Homo sapiens: one gene and its partner. The protein of the gene in region 1 interacts with the protein of each later gene in a biochemical or structural test. Each region holds a gene or a part of one and is shown on either strand. Other genes may lie near its edges. The genes, in order: G6PD and PAK4.

The links.
Region 2: the proteins of G6PD (region 1) and PAK4 form a complex in vitro, tested with the Homo sapiens proteins (one study listed by BioGRID).

The regions. Positions count from the first base shown.
Region 1 is NC_000023.11:154,530,633-154,533,918, reverse strand, and holds the end of G6PD (glucose-6-phosphate 1-dehydrogenase), read left to right. Parts: intron 1-249; coding exon 250-343; intron 344-790; coding exon 791-977; intron 978-1,116; coding exon 1,117-1,352; intron 1,353-1,456; coding exon 1,457-1,533; intron 1,534-1,638; coding exon 1,639-1,731; intron 1,732-1,828; coding exon 1,829-1,919; 3' UTR 1,920-2,528; downstream 2,529-3,286. UniProt on the Homo sapiens protein: Catalyzes the rate-limiting step of the oxidative pentose-phosphate pathway, which represents a route for the dissimilation of carbohydrates besides glycolysis.
Region 2 is NC_000019.10:39,174,009-39,177,816, reverse strand, and holds part of PAK4 (serine/threonine-protein kinase PAK 4), read right to left. Parts: coding exon 3,807-3,808; intron 2,887-3,806; coding exon 2,753-2,886; intron 2,506-2,752; coding exon 2,379-2,505; intron 1,228-2,378; coding exon 1,102-1,227; intron 143-1,101; coding exon 8-142; intron 1-7. UniProt on the Homo sapiens protein: Serine/threonine-protein kinase that plays a role in a variety of different signaling pathways including cytoskeleton regulation, cell adhesion turnover, cell migration, growth, proliferation or cell survival.

The DNA of each region.
Region 1 (3,286 bases):
AAGTGTCTGAGCTATCAGACCGGGCTGGAAAGGGCTGGACCCCTACACAGCCAAGCACCCCACGGTTTTATGATTCAGTGATAGCATCACCATGTCCTTCCTTGATTTAAGGGGACCTGGAAGACAAGGGGGATCAGGAAGTGAGTCTTGCAGCTTGTCACTAGGAAGCCTTGTTTGGGGTCCCCATGCCCTTGAACCAGGTGAACAGGGCGGGGAGCTAAGGCGAGCTCTGGCCTCTTCCGTCCCCAGGGACGTGATGCAGAACCACCTACTGCAGATGCTGTGTCTGGTGGCCATGGAGAAGCCCGCCTCCACCAACTCAGATGACGTCCGTGATGAGAAGGTAGGGGGTGCACCCCAGTCCCCAGGAGCATGCCCTGTCGCAGGCCCATCTGTGACGAGGCACTGAGCTGGGGTGTGCATGCAGAGCAGGTGTCCTCAACCCCGGAGAAGTCACCACCTCTGAGCACAGCGTGGCCTCCCGGAGGTGACCTGGACTGGCAGTCATGAAGCCCAAGTTGTCATGTCCCAGGCCTGACAGTCACTATGTGACCAGGGAAGGCCATTGCCTCTCTGGGCCTCAGCTTGTTCATCAGAATAGACTCGAGATGGACCAGGGTGGTCCTGGAGGGTCCTCAGGGAGGGGCCCTGAGCTGGGCCTCTGGCAGGGTGAGCAGAGCCAAGCAGGGGCCTCCTCCTGCCCTGAGGGCTGCACATCTGTGGCCACAGTCATCCCTGCACCCCAACTCAACACCCAAGGAGCCCATTCTCTCCCTTGGCTTTCTCTCAGGTCAAGGTGTTGAAATGCATCTCAGAGGTGCAGGCCAACAATGTGGTCCTGGGCCAGTACGTGGGGAACCCCGATGGAGAGGGCGAGGCCACCAAAGGGTACCTGGACGACCCCACGGTGCCCCGCGGGTCCACCACCGCCACTTTTGCAGCCGTCGTCCTCTATGTGGAGAATGAGAGGTGGGATGGTAGGTGATGCCTTCGAGGCCCAGCAAGGCAGAACTGGGCATGCCCTGTGTGCGGGCACTGGAGCTCCCACTGAGACACTCACGCACTGGTCCACACCCTGAGAGAGCTGGTGCTGAGGCTGCCCTTTCCGCCACGTAGGGGTGCCCTTCATCCTGCGCTGCGGCAAGGCCCTGAACGAGCGCAAGGCCGAGGTGAGGCTGCAGTTCCATGATGTGGCCGGCGACATCTTCCACCAGCAGTGCAAGCGCAACGAGCTGGTGATCCGCGTGCAGCCCAACGAGGCCGTGTACACCAAGATGATGACCAAGAAGCCGGGCATGTTCTTCAACCCCGAGGAGTCGGAGCTGGACCTGACCTACGGCAACAGATACAAGGTGCCCTACAGAGAAGGAGCAGTGTGGAGGGTGGGCGGCCTGGGCCCGGGGGACTCCACATGGTGGCAGGCAGTGGCATCAGCAAGACACTCTCTCCCTCACAGAACGTGAAGCTCCCTGACGCCTATGAGCGCCTCATCCTGGACGTCTTCTGCGGGAGCCAGATGCACTTCGTGCGCAGGTGAGGCCCAGCTGCCGGCCCCTGCATACCTGTGGGCTATGGGGTGGCCTTTGCCCTCCCTCCCTGTGTGCCACCGGCCTCCCAAGCCATACCATGTCCCCTCAGCGACGAGCTCCGTGAGGCCTGGCGTATTTTCACCCCACTGCTGCACCAGATTGAGCTGGAGAAGCCCAAGCCCATCCCCTATATTTATGGCAGGTGAGGAAAGGGTGGGGGCTGGGGACAGAGCCCAGCGGGCAGGGGCGGGGTGAGGGTGGAGCTACCTCATGCCTCTCCTCCACCCGTCACTCTCCAGCCGAGGCCCCACGGAGGCAGACGAGCTGATGAAGAGAGTGGGTTTCCAGTATGAGGGCACCTACAAGTGGGTGAACCCCCACAAGCTCTGAGCCCTGGGCACCCACCTCCACCCCCGCCACGGCCACCCTCCTTCCCGCCGCCCGACCCCGAGTCGGGAGGACTCCGGGACCATTGACCTCAGCTGCACATTCCTGGCCCCGGGCTCTGGCCACCCTGGCCCGCCCCTCGCTGCTGCTACTACCCGAGCCCAGCTACATTCCTCAGCTGCCAAGCACTCGAGACCATCCTGGCCCCTCCAGACCCTGCCTGAGCCCAGGAGCTGAGTCACCTCCTCCACTCACTCCAGCCCAACAGAAGGAAGGAGGAGGGCGCCCATTCGTCTGTCCCAGAGCTTATTGGCCACTGGGTCTCACTCCTGAGTGGGGCCAGGGTGGGAGGGAGGGACGAGGGGGAGGAAAGGGGCGAGCACCCACGTGAGAGAATCTGCCTGTGGCCTTGCCCGCCAGCCTCAGTGCCACTTGACATTCCTTGTCACCAGCAACATCTCGAGCCCCCTGGATGTCCCCTGTCCCACCAACTCTGCACTCCATGGCCACCCCGTGCCACCCGTAGGCAGCCTCTCTGCTATAAGAAAAGCAGACGCAGCAGCTGGGACCCCTCCCAACCTCAATGCCCTGCCATTAAATCCGCAAACAGCCCCTCCTGTCCCCTTGTCATTTGCTTCCCTGAGGACCCACTTCCTTGTCCCACTCCCCAAGTCACCCGGGTGCTTCCTCTGTGGCCACTGAGGAGCCTCCTCACTTCTGGTTCTGACCCCATGTCCAGCCATGACCATGTTTGGTGTCAGAGACACCTCCTGAGTCCTCCTCCGCTCCACGCATATTGTCATTGTGAGACCAGCTTGAGGTGCAAGGATGTGGGGTCACCTTCCGCTCTTACTGTCCATGTCCCTGCCCCACCCAAGATGACTTCCAGCAACACTGCCAGTCCACAGAAGTATTTAGGAAGGAGAGGGGATGGGTTTTGTGACTGATGTCAGAGGCCAAGGGAGAGGGGACAGTCCACAGTGATGCACAGCCAGGCCCAGCCACCCCTTCCAGGCAGAAGGGCCACACACTGGGCAGCTCTCAACATAGGCTGATTCTCCCAGTTCTGGAGGCCAGAGTCCAAGATCCAGCACTCCCGCCAGAGGCCCAAGGGGAGGGTCCTTCCTGCCCTCTCCAGCTCCTGGGGAACCAGGCATCTTGGGCTGGTGGTCACCTCACTCCACTCACTCTGCCTGTCTTCTCGTGGCCTCCCCATGGTGTGACTTCTATGTCCTAACTCAGCGACATCTGCAGACCTCCTATTTCCAAATAAGGCCACATCAGGAACTCCCAGGAGACATGTATTTGGGGGCCGCTGTTCAGCCCCTGCACTGCTCCCCACACAGCCCCTGGGTGTTTCAGTGCAGCAT
Region 2 (3,808 bases), on another chromosome or scaffold:
GGCCTACCTTGTGCAGGTTCTTCAGTCGGGGTGGCAGGTTGTCCCGAATCATCTTCATGGCTTTGAGGGGTGGCTCGTTGAAGTAGGGGGGCTCTCCGTCCACCATCTCAATCACCATTATCCCCAGCGACCAGATGTCTACCTGGGGCGGGAGAAGGGACAGCAGGGCTGAGCTGTTGGGGGATGGTGGGTCCTGGGGAGGCCTCAGGCAGGGACCGCTCCAGCGCTGTCTCTGCCTCTGGCTCCTGGAGTCCTTGGCCCAGAACTCCCTCTTGGGCACCCAGCCAGCAGTCCACAGAGCACTAGTCCTCCAGGGAGCCCCTCAAGAGAGCTGCCCCCCCAGCACCCACCCCTCTTCTTTCTGTCAACTGCCCCCAGGTGTCCTCCCTCCCTCAGCCCAGGTAGCATCCACTGGTGGGTTCAGGACCCATGCGGCCTCATCACCACAGTGGAGACACAGTGATTGGTTCAGAAACAGGCACAGGACCCAGGCTGAGCCAATCAGAGCCAACCTGGGGACTTTACCCAAAACACCCAGGGAAAAAGAGGAGCCCATAGGTGGGAGACACTTCCCAGAGCTGCCGGGACCAGCTCTGCTCCCACAAGGGGAAAGCCGGCCTGTGAAAACAATGCTCAGAAGGCAGAGCCAAGGCTGGGCGCGGTGGCTCACATCTGTAATCCCAGCACTTTAGGAGGCCAAGGCGGATAGATCACCTGAGGTCAGGAGTTCAAGACCAACCTGGCCAACATGGTGAAACCCCCATCTCTACTAATACAAAAATTAGCCAGGCATGGTGGCGGGTGCCTGTAAAACCAGCTTCTCGGGAGGCTGAGGCAGGAGAATCGCTTGAACCCGGGAGGTGGAGGTTGCAGTGAGCTGAGATTGCACCACTGCACTCCAGCCTGGGCAACAGAGCGAGACTCCATCTCAAAAAAAAAAAAGAAGAATGAATACATGCATGCCTGCAGTACCTCCTTGTCCAGAGCACCATTCCTGGCAATGACTCCCCAGACTGGGCCCCATCTCCCGCCAGCGCTGCAGCTGGAAAATGGCAGCGTACGCTGTCCACGGCGGGACAACCAAGCCACCCCGGGGCTCACCTCTGGCCCGTAGGGAAGGCGGGAGATGAGCTCTGGGGCCATCCAGTAGGGCGTGCCGACCAGCGACTTCCTTCGGGGCACTTCCTTGCTCACCTGGGCGCAGAACCCAAAGTCTGACAGCTTCACCTGGGACAGGGCAGAGGCAGTGGGGTCAGAGGAGCTGGCACAGCAGGAGGGCGAGCAGGGGCGTCTGCCTGCGTCATTCCTTGGCTTCAGACACAATGTGCGGCCCAGAGGTCAGAGCTGGGGTCTAGGGTCAGAGCTGGGGTCTAGAGCCAGACCAATGGGGAGCTCCACCACCTCCTGGTGGGGGCCCTCGGGCAAGTCACCTCCCCCACGATCCCCCCATTTCCCTCCCTGACAGCCTCTGGGGCTTTTGGGGACACTGGCCTGAGTACTGCAGATAGCAAAGGCAGGGCCGGAGCTGGGAACAGGGGTGGCCCCAAAAGCCTGTGCCCTGGGGCCCTGCTGCCCTGGAACAAGTCTTTAGTTCGGTTGGAGCAGAAAGTAGCCCTGCACTAGGGCCGTGAGGGGACACAGCCTGCCTTTGCGACAACCAGGCCTCTCACACCTTCTTAGGAACTGTGGGTCCCTTTCCGATTTTTGAGGATTTCTATGGGTCTTCCTGCCTCCAGCAAACATCCCCACAACCGTGTGTGGACAATCTCAGGTGGCCCATAGACATCGCCCCCAAAACACATCTATAGACATCTGGAGATTTTCAGACTGTCAGTGACACAGAGCTCTCTCTGCCTCTGCCTGGACTAATGGTGTGGCTTAATCTTCCTTGGGGGAGGGGATGGAGTCATCCACTTCTGCAAGCATTTCATTCAAGTCAAGGGCCCTCTCTCACAGAAAATCATGTCCACCCGACGTTATAATTGTCACAGCCTCAGATTTGGAACCTCAGTCCAAAGCATGGAAGACAGGACTGGGGTCCATGGACCGCCCTGGGTGCTGGGCAGGGAGCAGCTTTTCAGTGGAGGAAGAAGCCTGTGGCGGGGGCTGCGCTGTCTGCCCAGATCCCTGCCCCTGGGCCCAGTGTCCTGTGCTGATGGCAGAGCCCCCGCCAGCCTGTGCCCTCCCACTGCACAGAGTCCCCACTGAGCTGGAACCTGACTCTGGGCTGCTCCACCAGGGAGGGACGAAGTTCCCAGCTCCTCAAGACACAGACCTGGGGGTCAGAGCTCACCTACCCTCACAGGGGATGGGAAGAGGCAGGGAAGCCCCGCAGCCGGAAACCTGCCGCCCCCGTACCCCGCCGCCCGTCCCCTCACCCTGCCATCATGGGTCAGCAGGATCGAGTCGCTCTTGATGTCCCGGTGGATGACGCCCTGGGCGTGGAGCACCGACAGGGCCTGCAGCACTGCAAGGCACACGGCCGCGATCTGCTCCTCGTTCATCCTGCGGGGTGGGGTGGGGGGTGAGCAGCCAGCTGGACAGCACCCCGGGGTGCCGAGGGGGACGCAGCCCTGCCTTGCAGTGGGAGGAATCTGAGACCACTCGACCCCACTCTGGAGTGGGAGGAATGGAAGACACGACCCCATCCCAGGGGCCCGGAGCACAGCTGGTTTGGAGATGTGGCCCCACCCCTAGTGGTCTGGAGGGGACTTGGTCGTGTCACAGGAGGGGTCTGAGGCCCCAGAAATACCTGGTGTGGGTGACGATGTCGGTGAGGGCGCCTCCTTCCAGGAACTCCATGACCACCCAGAGCTCGTCCCCCACCAGGTAGCTGTTGTACATCTCCACCACATTCTCGTGCTGGTAGTCCCTCATGATTACCACCTGTGCAGGGGCTGGGTCAGTGGTGGAGGGAGGCGGGAGGGCTGCCAGTGCCAGACCCAGCCACCGCCACCCCCCTGGCTCCCCCTGCAGTTCCACATTAAGCTTGTGCTCACTGGGGCCACCTGGACTGCCCTCCCCTACTGCCACAGCCACGTGGGCCTCAGAGCCAGCTTGAAGCCCACGCCTCCCTTCTGGGGGCGCGCCCCCCTGGGCACACGCCCATCTCAGGTCAGTCCTGGGCTAGTGCTGGGGGGCAGGTGGGAAGAGAGCGTTCAATCACAGGGCTGAGACCCGGACAAGGGCAAGGATGAGAGAAGAGGCGTGTGTCGGCGGGAGGATGAGGAACCCAGGCGAGGAGCTCCATGGTGCAGCCCGGCACTGTGATGGGCAACGGGGTCGAGAGGGGCCTCACACACCCGGCAAAGGGACCTGGGCTTCCTATCGTCAGGGTGCTACGGGGCACTGCCAGGGTCTCTAAGGAGGGACGGGGAGGGGGTGGGCCTGAACGTCAGAAACATACTCTTGGTGGTTGTGTGGGCTGTGCCGAGGGACACCCAGGAGTGGAGGCCAGGGCGGGGCACAGGGAACCCAGGAGGGGCAGGTCTGGAGGACACTGTACCCTGGAGCCCAGGCGGGCCTCAGTGGGTGCGAGGGGCCTGGAAGACACTGGGTCGGGGGTCAGTGGCCCGAGGAACCCTGGGTCTGGGGCTCAGGGACAGAGATGTGGGTGAGGGTGCTGTGAGGACAGAGGCAGGGACCCAGCTGGGGCGGACGAGACGGCCTGGGGAGGGAGAAGAGTGAGGGGAGGAGGGGAGCCTGGCCCAGCACGGAGGAGTGCAGGGAGAGGAGGGAGGAGGGGAGGGAGGGTGGGAGGGAGGGGTGGGAGGACCAGCAGGGCGGCAGGGCAGCAGCGCCCGCACCT